Linked DNA regions of Homo sapiens: all the other regions are reported to be linked to region 2. Evidence: microRNA targets listed by miRTarBase, many of them from high-throughput screens and not tested one by one. Region 2 holds a microRNA gene; each other region holds the end of a gene's coding sequence.
What was found. Region 2 holds the annotated microRNA hsa-miR-200c-3p (UAAUACUGCCGGGUAAUGAUGGA, at 2,037-2,059, opposite strand). A microRNA usually pairs through its seed, bases 2 to 8, with sites in the 3' UTR of a target mRNA and lowers its output. Matches are read on the target gene's strand: a 7mer-m8 pairs with bases 2 to 8, a 7mer-A1 pairs with bases 2 to 7 and ends in A, and an 8mer does both.

Region 1 (4,000 bases), not on the chromosome of region 2:
TTGATTGGAGGGATTACAATCATGTAGCCTGTAGCAGAGACCTCAGTCACTGTGCAGAGAGATCTGGAAGCCTCATTCTGGAAACGAGTGGGACTTGATTTGGGATTTTGGGGAAAATGACGGCCTTTTTTCCCTCCTCTTTTTGTAGGCAGAACAGTATCAAAAGAAGAATCGGAAGATGCTTGTGATTTTAATATTATTTGTCATCATCATTGTGCTCATTGTTGTCCTCGTTGGCGTGAAGTCTCGATAAGTGGCATTGGGTTTTCGTGTGTGCCGCGCGTGTGGATCTCCCGGGTGTGAGGGGCTTGGCCTGCGCCCCGCCAGCTGCCCGCAGAGGTGCAGCCTCGAGGAATCTGAGGGCGTCGGGGCAGCGAACCTTTGCATCCACGGACTCCTCCTTCCCTAGTCCTGCTCAAGCGGTCCGGGGAATGGGTTTTTGTTTTTCCTTCATTGTTGAGAATTTAAGGACCTTTGATACTGCTGCACAATAGAGATTGAGTTCTGGGATCAGTTATAATATATATTTTTTTTAGAAAGAGAAAATGAGCTGAGAGTTTACAGGCACTGCAGAAGCTGTTCAGTATTATATGTGTATATGCTATTTTTTTAGCAGCCATGTCTGAGCAGAATGTTAACATAATTTTTGGAAAAATTTTCTTTAAACCATCTGGTTTTTAAGAAATTTGGTACCAAAAATTGATGAGTAGAGGCAAAAATGCCCCTTCATCTTTCTCTATATATTTTCCAGTTGAAAACAAACTAAGAAGTCCTTTAAGAATTTATAATCCGTTCCCCATTAACTTAATTTAGCTTTTCCATCACTGTTAATGATCAGAGTAACAAAGTGTGAAAAATAAGAAACCATCATTGATGTTAATTAACACATTTAGATGGGCCAGTTAAAACAGCTTCATAAGTTTTAAATTAATTGTAAATGGAATATTCCTCATTTAAAATTTTTGCACTGCATTTTCTACTGTAAACCAAAAGAGGTTACTAAGCAAAACCACCTAAATTTAAGTTGGTGATTTAAATGAATCTCACATTAAAAGAAAGCTTGACAGTGTTATGAAAGCCACCAGACTCAGCCAGTGTGTCCCCATGGGTATCCCCAGCCATCCTTGCTCAATCCATTACTTATATACTAACTACATAATGACCTGTTCAAACCAGACTCTATTTAATGAACTGTGAATTTACACAGAGGCCATTTTAAATGGGTCACCCCATTTAGGATTAGTGGATCTCAAATTATTAACCAAACATCACTCCATTTCAAAGTAAAATATTCCACCAGCGATTTGATTTATTGGCTCTTCCATTGCCACTGAGCAATGCCCAGGAAGCAGGCACATTGCCAAGGACTGGGGGCATCTTGACTAGGAAGCTCCTCGTTTGTGTGAGCGTGGGTCAGACCGCCAAAGTAGGACTTCATCGTTTACCTACCTATTATCAATATGGTGCTTGAATATATTCCTATAACTGTAGAACAGTGTGGAAAGTGATGGTAACTTTGAAGTTGTTCATGTTTTATTGGCTTTGTTTTAATTGACACTAGTAGAGTTTTAATGGTCTTTGTGTAAATTTTAATGGCTTTTCCATTGTTTTTGCTTCTCTTAAAAAGTTTAAGAAGAATATGACCTCATTAAATGTGCTGTTTTATTTGGACCAGTCACACAAAATGTCTCTCTAGAGTTGACTTTAAAGTTGTTTACAGAAATTTAAACTCAATTCCAGAGATTGAAGTTGTCCAAACAGCTCATGGGCTTAGTGTCCAAACCCCTGCCCAGCCTTCCCTTTCCAAGTTGGTGCCACCTCCAGGTAGCCATTGGTGGTTTTCCTATTACTGATGTGGCTGTGGAATGATAAGGTCCTAGAGGGGCCCTGGCATTTCAGGAAGCGGACCTGGTATTCCCTGACAAACATTGCTTAGGAAAGAGGGCCGGAGAATAAGAAGCCAGCACCTCATCAGTCAGCCCTGCAATGTGAGACTTCCGTAGCTGTTGAGAGTCACTGCAGGTGTTCTTTCATCCCATCTGATTTTAACCCATGGTTGAGACGTTCCAAGTTAGATCTGCTGCTCTTAGGTGTGGGGCTGTCCACATTAGGGAACTTGCCTCAAAAACAGTCCACAGTGGCAATACCGGACTTCTGTTCAAGCTTTTTAAAGTGCTGAGCCTTACAAACCCCTGAAGGAAAGTGACCCTTTAAGAGAGGATCATCTTTTTTTATATTTATTTTCACCAAATAGGGTGATGAGGGTTGGTTTTTGTTCCCTCAACCCATTTGGGTAAAATAACGGATCTGATTAGAAACTGTTTTAAGGAGGGGCTGGGCTCGGTGGCTCACGCCTGTAATCCCAGACTTTGAGAGGCCAAGGCGGTCACGAGGTCAGGAGTTCGAGACCAGCCTAGCCAACATGGTGAAACCCCGTCTCTACAAAAAATACAAAAATTAGCCGGGTGGGACACGCCTGTAATCCCAGCTACTCAAGAGGCTGAGGCAGGAGAATAGCTTGAACCCGGGAGGCAGAGGTTGCAGTGAGCCGAGATCACACCACTGCACTCCAGCCTGGGTGACAGAGCGAGGCTCCGTCTCAAAAAAAAAAAAAAAAAATTGTTTTAGCGCTGGGTTTCCCAAGGTGGGAGAGACAGACCCAGCCTGGAGCTGGCCCCTGGCCTGTGTGCTGACTTCTTGGGGTCCTCAAACCACTGTATTTTTCTGTTGAGCCTGTACTTGGGGAGAGATCAGTAGCATTTGAGGAAGTAAGAGAAAAGAATCATGGTACCTCAGGGTTTCTTTCCCTTTACTCGCTGGCAGCCATTGTCTGTGGGCACCTCATGTTTTTCCACACTCTACTGGGCCGTGGAGGTAACGATCACCCAGGCCAGTCTCCTCTGCCTGGGATGCGCCCTCTGAGAGGAGGCCTAGCAGGGCAGGCTCCCTCTGGGCATCCCTGGATGCAGCCTCTGGACACATGCCTCCTTTAAAGTGTCCGGGTGCAGCTCAGGTTGAGTGGAGGTAGAAGGAGAAACAGACATGTTTACCACGCGTTTTCCAAAGCTCCTGATCTTTCCCAAGATTGTAACTGAAAACTGCTGTCTCTTGTTTTGTTCGTTTTGGGGGTGGTGGTGCTGGCTGGGCCATGCTTGTGAAGTGATGTGTGTCTCTGATTTAACGGATTCACTGTTTTCTCTGCTAATTGAGAGAGCGTTATTTACATTATTTATTTGTTTTGACACAAGTGCTTTCAGTGTTTTATCCTAGCTAATGGCTTCTTAAAGGTAATAAAACCCTTCCAACGTAATTGGTCAGATAAAACTTTTTTTCTTGTATGCTTAAATAAAGCAATTAGTGAAGCACTTCTATCCAAAATGACTTTTTTGTCCTTTTTTAAAACCAATTTACTGTTACTGGAAACTTTTTGTACAATAAAGCAATCACGCAGATTAAAGAACATCCTGCAATCCTAGTATTAATTTTAACAATGGGTTCATGTTTTCTTCCAGTGCATTTGTGTTAGGGGAGGGCTTGGCCAGTTTTGTGATCCTCTGGGCCCCTGACTCTGTTTTGTGCCTGAGGCCTTTGCCTCAGTGTCCGAAAGTAGATCTATCTAATGGATGCTTTCAAAGGGACAATCTATTTACTATCTGATATACAAAAAGAACAACTGCCTAAAAGGCAGATAAGTATTTTTCTTATGAAAATATATGCTTTATATACATACCAAGAAACATTTGGAAATCTCCAAATAAAACTGTGATGTGCCTTGTTGAGAAGCAATTCTTACACACAGGCTGTAAGAGACTTGACTTTCTAAATGATTTTGTTTCCTACTCTGTTACACCAAAAACTTGAGAGACAAGTGTCTGCCAGTTTAACTCAAAGCCAAGACTATGTTTCCCCTTGATTGTGCCTGTCCTGGGGTCCTCCGAGGAGGACCTTTGTCCTGAAACTTGACTTTGATGCATTTGTTTTGCTGGTGGGAGATGTGGAC
Region 2 (4,148 bases):
AGGGTCGTAGAGGGAATGGCCTAGAGTGTCCTGCCTCTCACATTTATGTCCCCTAATAATGTCATTATCTATCTTTTTTTTCCTACAGTGACAGCCTCATCAAGGGTAAGAAATGAGCCTAGTCACCAAGAACTCCACCCCCAGAGGAAGTGGATCTGCTTCTCCAGTTTTTGAGGAGCCAGCCAGGGGTCCAGCACAGCCCTACCCCGCCCCAGTATCATGCGATGGTCCCCCACACCGGTTCCCTGAACCCCTCTTGGATTAAGGAAGACTGAAGACTAGCCCCTTTTCTGGGGAATTACTTTCCTCCTCCCTGTGTTAACTGGGGCTGTTGGGGACAGTGCGTGATTTCTCAGTGATTTCCTACAGTGTTGTTCCCTCCCTCAAGGCTGGGAGGAGATAAACACCAACCCAGGAATTCTCAATAAATTTTTATTACTTAACCTGAAGTCAAGGCTTCACGTGTTCATGAACTGGGTAACTGGCAGCAAGCATGCGCACGTTCACATGTGCGCTCCTGGGTCTGTCTTTGTGTGTGCCAGCAGGGGGCGCAAAAGAATCTGGCTGGGGCGGCTAAGGGGAAGCAAGGCCTGGGCTCCGAAACAGGACCCAAGCTGGGAAGGCTGGCCCTGAGTTCTCGAGGCCCAGCTGTGCTCTTCACACACCCTCCATTTCTCCCACATCACCCATTTTTTTAAGGCTGGACAGCCATGGCTTTGCTGAGCCAGATTAAAAATCTGATGACCCCAACAGGAGCTGCTTCCTTGGCAGCAGGGTTCCTTGTGGCTGTGGGGAGCCTGCCTGTGCCTGTTGAGGCACTTCTGTGCCCAGAAGCCCAGTGGATCGCGTGGCCTGCTGTAGGCCCCCCAGACTCCATTTCTCAGTCACCAGGCGTGAGGAGCTGCTAGCTAACAGGCCTCCCCTGGGGAGGTGGGCTTTTCATGCCCGCAGTTCCGGGGCCAACAGAACAGGTGCCTGTCTGTTCAGTCCACAGATAAGCTGACACTTATCTTCCCAAGACAGGCCTTCCCGAATCTCAGGCACCAGAGAAACAGAGCCACCGTTTATACCTGAATCTCCCACTACTGCCCATTTCCCATCCCTGCGGGGAGACAAGGAAGATGTGGAACTCAGACAAAACATAGGTGCAAAGTATGTCCAGGAACTGCCAAATGCAGATAGGGCAGCAGGTGGATCTGAACAGAGGGACTGGGTTAATCTGCTTCGATTTTTAAGATATTTTTCTCTGCTTGGGGTTGAGTATCATGAAAGACAAAGCAGACGTCGCAGCCCCAATCCTGAGTTGCTGGGAGGCTAAGATGAGATAAACAACTAGACAAAAGACAGGTCAAGTGACTTGGATCAGTCTTCCTCATGTTCCCCTTCACACTTTATTTATTTCATGCTCCCAAGGCGGGAAGACAATGGAGGTGCCTAGGGAACCAGTGTTTCCACATCTTGCTGCAGCTGTAAAGGCAGCCATTTTGTCTCCTTCCCATTGTTCCCCTTTGCCTAGTGATTCGTCCCCCATCCAGAGGGGTGAAGGTCAGAGGTTGTTGGTCAGTAGTCCTCCATGGTCTTCAGGGCTCCCTGAAGGTTACTGCCGAGAGAACCCACCCGGGAGCCATCTTTACCAGACAGTGTTAGGAGCTTCACAATTAGACCATCCAACACTGTACTGGAAGATGGACCCAGGGCCGGCCGACAGAGAACTACGGTGCGCGCTCACCAGTTGCTACAGGGGACCCTGGCCACAGGCCAGGTGAGGTCTCTTGAGAGGGGGCGAGCCAACCCCAAGCTCAAGGTCGACTGTGGGTTCTGGATCCACCAGGTGACAAATCGCACTGGGTGGGAGGAGGGGCTGGGGCCCATTGTGTCCCTTAGTGGCAGCCAGCCAACAAGAACCACCCCTTGTGCAACGCTCTCAGCTCAAGACGAGGGGCTTCCGGGGTGCGTGGGAAGTGGGGAGGGGGCTGCAGCCAGCTAAGGGCTGGGGACCTGAGGCGATGGATGTTGCTGACACAGGGACAGGGGCCTCCATCATTACCCGGCAGTATTAGAGACTCCCAACCGCACCCAAACACTGCTGGGTAAGACGAGGGCCCCCGCCCAGCCCGCCCACCTTGGGTCAGGCAGCTTCAGGCCCAGGATCCCTGCGGAAAAGCTGCAGATCCCTGGCTCCCATCCCCCCACCACCCGAGTCCCTGGGGACACTTCCTGGTGAGCCCTGCTGCCCGCCACCAGCCACACCCTGGGTCGCTGATCACGAGGCCCAGGTTGCAGTCCAAGCAGGCCCTCCGAAGCCCCTCGACCGTCGGCCCGCCGCCTCTGAGCCACCTTCCCCTACCCCCGGCAGCCTTTCCCGACCCGCGACACACACCGATTTACCCACCCTCATCCCCCCTCTGCAGTCCCAAGCTCAGCCCAGGACCTCTCCCCTGGTGGCCTTTACCTGTCACCGGGCCCACCTGCCCCCAGAGAGTGGGTGCTGGGGAGACGAAGGGGCTTTAAGGCCCCAGATTCCACGGCCTAGAGCCCGCCCTGGCCTCCGCTCTTCCTCCTTCCTTCTCCGCCTGCCGGGCAGCCAGCGCAGGCTCCTTACCTGGGCCCCGCCTGCCACCCTGCGCACAGGTGTGTCCTCCTGCCATAGGCTGCCCCCCCACTGCCTTAACCCCTTCCCTCCCAGCGCCAGCCACGGGCACCTCCTCTAAGGCTTGGCCACTCCTCTAGGCCTCCCACCCTCTCCCAGGGGCCTCTTTTCTCCAACCTGCCTAGTCTCACCCCTGTCTCCAGAGGTACAAAAAGCGGGGGCTGTCCTTGGGTCCCCTCCCCACAGCAGATGCTGCCCCCAGGACTAGCCCATTCCTCTGTGGCCTCAGACCCTGCCCACAGCGGAGCTGCAGGCCAGAGAGATCCCTGAGGTCAGCGAGGGGTCAGCTGGGCAGGAGTTGGGCTGTGCCGCCCCGCAGTGCCCAGCCTGTGCTGGGATCCCCTGAGGGAAAGGGGAGGGAGAAGGCCCCGCCAGGCCTGTGAAGGGCAGGCGGGTCCCAGCAAGGTGTCGCTAGTGTGAAGTTACCCACCGCTACCCAGAGACCCCAGCTGGCCCGGAGCATCAGCCTTGCCCCTCGATTGAGGCCTGCAGAGGGAACGATCGCGCTCCACTCTCCGGACCGAGCTGCTCCCGGACCCACCTCACAGCACAGCCCTCAGTGGAGTCCAAGTCCCACCCCAAGGGCAGGTAGCCCAAGGGCGGTTAGAGGAGGTGGGACTTGCCTTTGTGCAGCTGCGGCTTGTATAGAAAGGGCGTTGCTGGGAGAGGGGACCTGGGCCCGACAGGTGATTGCCCCACCCGTGCCCTGGAGGGCCACAGCCCCAGGGAGCTATTGGGTTGCTCAATCCCTCGCTGTTCTCTCTCCCAGGCTTTGTTTGCTTCCTTCTTAATACCCGCCTGCAATTATTTGATGCTTGTGATCGGTTTGTGAATCTGTCTCCCTGACCAGCCTCCTAAGTTCCAGGAGGTCGGGGGACTGTGAATGCCTGTGACGCCGGGGGCTCTGTAAGGATTTGCTGAGTAATGCACGCCCAGCCTCTGGGCTTTGGGACCTGTGCTGTCTCAGCCTTTCCAGGAGTGGGCGCCAGCACTTCCTGAGGGATGACTCCCACCGGCTTTACTCCCCAGGACACCAGTGTTTCAAATAAAGAAGAAACCCCACTCCTGACATGGGGGAAGGAAGAGGGGACAAAAAACAAAGCACTCTTCACGTCAGCCAGCTCTTCAAACTCTGCCCAAGAGGATAAGGGCAGCAGCGGCCTGGATGAGGGGAGGAGCTGGGCGTGCCCGGGTGCTCTGAGGAGCCTGTCCCTGTTCCCGCCAGAGGGGACGCAGCCGGGCTGGCCTCAGGTCTGCGCTTCCGGCTGTTAACTACTCTTCTTAGTTCAGATCTGGAACTCAGCATCAGGGGAGTGTGATCAGGGCCCCCCTGAGGGTGGCCCCAGCTGCAACTCCAGGGTAAGGAGTGTGGGCTCTGGGGTCAGACAGCCTGGGTTCGAATCCCAGCCTCACTGTTCCATAGCCCTGTGACCTTGGGCAAGTGACCAAGTTACTTAGTTTTTCTGTCCCTCAGTTTCCGCCACGGTAAAATGAGAAT
Region 3 (4,000 bases), not on the chromosome of region 2:
GGTGAAACCCCACCTCTACTAAAACCACACAAAAAAATTAGCCGGGCGTGGTGGCGGGTCCCTGTAATTCCAGCTACTTGGGAGGCTGAGACAGGAGAATCACTTGAACCCCAGAGGCGGATGTTGCAGTGAGCTGAGATCCCACCACTGCACTCCAGCCTGGGAAACAGAACCAGACTCTGTCTCAAAAAAAAAAAAAAGAAAGAAAGAAACCTCTCTCGGCGATGTATCTGTGACACCACATTCTCTGTGCTACAGAGCTTTGACATAAAACATGGTTTTTGGTTGTTTTGTTGTTGGTGGTGGTTTCTTTAAAGAGAATTCCCTTTTCTTAAGAGAGCTTCTTGCTCTTCTGTGGCCAATTTCTTCACTCTCCTGACACTTTGAAGTAACCACTCAACTCCACAGACTTCTTGTTGAGACTTTTTTGCATGGAAAACAGATATTTTGGGGGGGGCATTATATGCTACCGATATTAGGATAAAATGTGTTTACCTAGAGGTTTCTAGGAGAGAGTACTGTTCTCTTCTGGTGAGGGAAGAGAGGATTGTGAAAATATTTCTCCTTGAAGCATCAGCATGTCTCAGATCAAAATCTTGACCCGAGGCCTCAGCATTTTTCTTGCAGATGGGTGACTAATATCCAGAAATCCTCTTGCCTCAACTCAACTCCAAGTTGAAGTCCATCCAGCCTTGTGCACGTTCTTCACCAATACGTACAGGGAAGACTATCTTTTGTGCTTTTCAGCCTCTCCCCAAGATAATCCCCACCCCCTGCCATTTAAGTCATCACCTTCCCTCTCATGTGATCACAGAGAATGTGACCTTGTGCTTAATTCCACCATCCCAGCCAGATAGGCTCAGGTTTTTCCTTCACTTGATCACCTTGTAACATAAGCCCCTCCCGGGGTGGGGGTGGTGGGGAGACAGATGCAGCTAAACTGCTTTTCACAAGTTGGAAAAAAAACCCAACCCTATAAACTGGTCTTTTGTCCTTTACACAATTTCAGGTTCATTGCACGCAATTACATAAACTCCCACAAATCGGTCGAAGAGTTCAAAACTGCAAGACCATGTGATACCAGTGAGAAAATCTGCTCCACACTGTGGCAAAGTGTCTCTGTTTCAACTGCTGCTATTTCAAAGAACCCTTCCAAAATTTCTGATCAGGTTCTTAGGACGTGAGAAATGACCTCTCAAGAGGGCAGGACAAAATGGAAAAGTGTGGTCTGCATTACGTGGAAGTGTGTTGTGTGAGATGGGATCTCCTCTCACTTCCACCTCCTGACCTCCCATCTTTAAAAAGCTGAGTCTGCCTTAGTATCGCTCCCTTGGAAAGTGATCTGGCCAACTGGACATGTTGCAGTATTTCCCCATCTAACACTATCGTAGTGCTAGTGCAAATCAAAGAGAACTCTTATAAGCCAGAAATCGCTGTCCAGTAAGAGCTAGTGGTTAGTAGTTTGCTTTGTGGAAATTCTTCTCCCAAGTCCTCCAAGGAGAATTACTGGGGCCAACTAAGGCCCTGAACATTCAAAATAAAAATTACCAGAAGAGAAGTTCTCCAAATCATTTTCTCAATTGCAAAACTCAGGAGGTGTTTGCATTCACAGAACTGTTCTTTCCCAGCTGTAACAAAGGAAGCCTCTCCCGGTGGCTACTCTTTGTCTTCTTACCCCAGTTCTGTGCAGCTTGCAGAAGCCCTTCTGGGCTTCCACTCCATGCCCCACAGGGCTGGTGCTGCTGTCCCTATGGAGGAAGGAGACTTGCTATAAAACCCTTGGCGAAATGCCAGGGGCCGCATGCCATCTTTCTGCAGTCTACGTTAAGACCACAGCTGTGAGCCTTCTCAAGAAGCCATAGGTATGAATCGGGGGCAGGAGGGTGCCCAGGGCAGAAACGTCTCCACCAAAAAAGTCCACCTTCCTTTGGAGGCACCAACCAGGGGCTGTCCTTTCCTCAACTGCCCAGCTCTGCAAACATTCTGTGGAGAGAAGGTGGAGAAGAGATGGGCAGTGCCTCTACCCCAGCTAGGCTCAAAGACGCCTGCTATCAGGAGCTCCTGATCTTGCTTGGTCAATCTCCATAGCCAGGCACCCAGGTCCAAGCATCTGTCTCCCTCCTCAAACGATATCAGCTGCACTGATGCCCAGCTGCCTGTCAAGCTTCCTGATAGGAGTCCCAGGGCACAGACTGTTCTTGCCCTTTTCTCCCATTGGGGTTGGATTTAAAGATCACATAGGTGGCTGCTCAGAGGAGCTGAGGAGAAGCTCCATCCTCCCCATGCACCTTCACCAGGTGGCCTAAAGAGCTTCCCTGAACCCCACACTCAGTAGCAAGATGAGGCTTCATTCTTGGAATGCATCTCCACACACAAGGTGAGGGCAACTTGCAAGAACCCAGAGGTTGGAAAGAATGGTCTTGACTGCAAACATCGCCCCAGCTTCAAGTGCAGGAAGACCTTTGATGACATGAAGATGGGCTGCGTTCAAGGCACCTGTCATATCTGCAGGTAGCCTCGACATTTCCCTTCAACCTGAAACTTCCTGGCCACCAGGCCACCAGGCCCTGGCCACACTAGCTGGTCAGCACTGTGTACGCACCAGCGAGATCTTTGTTTCTTGAGACATTTCCTTCCACTCAAGGAAGCGCCATAGAGACAGGCTGTCAGCTGGGTACAGAGAAACACACAGGATCTTCTCTGTCTCCTAAAGGTAGCCATGGAGGCAGAGATGGAGGCAGAATCCACTCTTCACAGGTTTCCACATAGAACATCACATATGTCTTTGTCATTTAAAACAATCAACGTTTCCAGTGTAAAAATACGTGGGCTTATTGCATCTACCCCACGGATGGTTTATCTTTTTCTTTCCATCAGACTTGCCGCAAGGTTATGTGGCTGTTATTTTGTTAATTTCCAAGGCTCTTACATTCACTGATCCTTCTAGGCATACAGGGAGAATTTCTACCAACATATAAACAACCCAAATGGTGAACCTGGAGAACCCTCTTCCCTCTCTAAACACAGACAGACGTGTGGCTGCTCCCTGGCACTTGAGAGGAGAAATCTTTCCTTCAACCTAAATACCACTCAGATCAGTGGCTCCTCTGATTTTCCTGCTCACGAGCAGCACATGTGCCAAGCTCACGGCTCTTGTGCTGGTTGCCTGGAATTTAATTACATGTGAAAGTATCAGGTAGGCACATGGACACGTACCATGTGTGCACACACATGTACACACACACATTTTGGGTCCTCCTTATAACTAAAATCAAAAGTCCTTGTGAGCAGAAAAAAGGAGGGCAGGGGTCCAGGGATAGGGAGCTGTCTGCTGACTTCTACATCCAGCTCCAGGTAGCAAATGATGGCTTGGCCGGAGCTGGGGAGGTTTGTGTCTAAATGTTTCCATGGAAAGAAAGTGCCTAGCTTCCTGGGGGTCTTATGGGCAATGGCGGTTCCTGGGGTGCCCAGATCCCCTCGTTCTCATGGCTCAGATTGTTGCTGGGGTCTCGGCTATCTCCTCCAGCCTCTGTCGAATCATTAGCCGGAGCACGGTGTACCTGGAGACAAGAAACAGGCTCAGATGGAGAGCAGCCAGCAACACACCCCTGCCCAGGACCTTCCCGGCCACCTGGGTAACACCAAGGTCACACCAGGTAACAGTGCAGTCAAGTGCCCTGCTCCTTTGCTTCCATTACTGACCCCTCTTTAGCTACTTTGTTGCTTATGTTCATTCCTACAACACGATGAGAGGAAATAAAGAGGCCAAATCCAAATTAGATTATTTTACTATGGGTAGAACATCTAGCCAAAAAAAAAAAAAAAAAAAAAAAGGTAAAAAAAAACAACAGCAATAATAAGCATTCTACGAATTCAGTGCGTTTGCTTACTATGTCCAAGACACTATGCATAGTACTTCATATGCACAGCAGCTCATGAACCCTCACCTAGGCTAGATGATATAAAATTGCTAACAGTTGACCCTCTTGGGGATCCTACA

Region 1: the mRNA of STX16 is a reported target of hsa-miR-200c-3p. Seed matches in the 3' UTR shown: 8mer at 582-589 and 7mer-A1 at 3,475-3,481.
Region 3: the mRNA of RASSF2 is a reported target of hsa-miR-200c-3p. The part of its 3' UTR that is shown has no 7-base or 8-base seed match.

Annotation. Positions count from the first base shown.
Region 1 is chr20:58,676,039-58,680,038 of GRCh38, forward strand. It overlaps STX16 (syntaxin 16), which reads left to right. Exons shown (of 9, transcript NM_001001433.3): 9 at 149-3,488. The coding sequence ends at 253. The region is part of intron 8 of STX16-NPEPL1 (STX16-NPEPL1 readthrough (NMD candidate)); the gene reads left to right. Among named protein-coding and RNA genes, the nearest start is that of NPEPL1, 15 kb to the right of the region's middle. RefSeq lists enhancers at 1-314, 315-839.
Region 2 is chr12:6,961,653-6,965,800 of GRCh38, reverse strand. MIR200C (microRNA 200c) reads right to left here and starts at 2,102; the gene lies at 2,035-2,102. PHB2 (prohibitin 2) reads left to right here. Exons shown (of 10, transcript NM_001144831.2): 10 at 89-474. The coding sequence ends at 116. MIR200CHG (MIR200C and MIR141 host gene) reads right to left here and starts at 2,556. Exons shown (of 2, transcript NR_135032.1): 1 at 2,453-2,556; 2 at 1,354-1,600. It overlaps MIR141 (microRNA 141), which reads right to left and starts at 1,704; the gene lies at 1,610-1,704. It also overlaps LOC105369634. RefSeq lists enhancers at 810-859, 2,642-3,443, 3,685-3,894, 3,703-4,148, 3,444-4,148.
Region 3 is chr20:4,780,783-4,784,782 of GRCh38, forward strand. RASSF2 (Ras association domain family member 2) reads right to left here. Exons shown (of 12, transcript NM_014737.3): 12 at 1-3,560. The coding sequence ends at 3,491. Among named protein-coding and RNA genes, the nearest start is that of RASSF2, 41 kb to the right of the region's middle.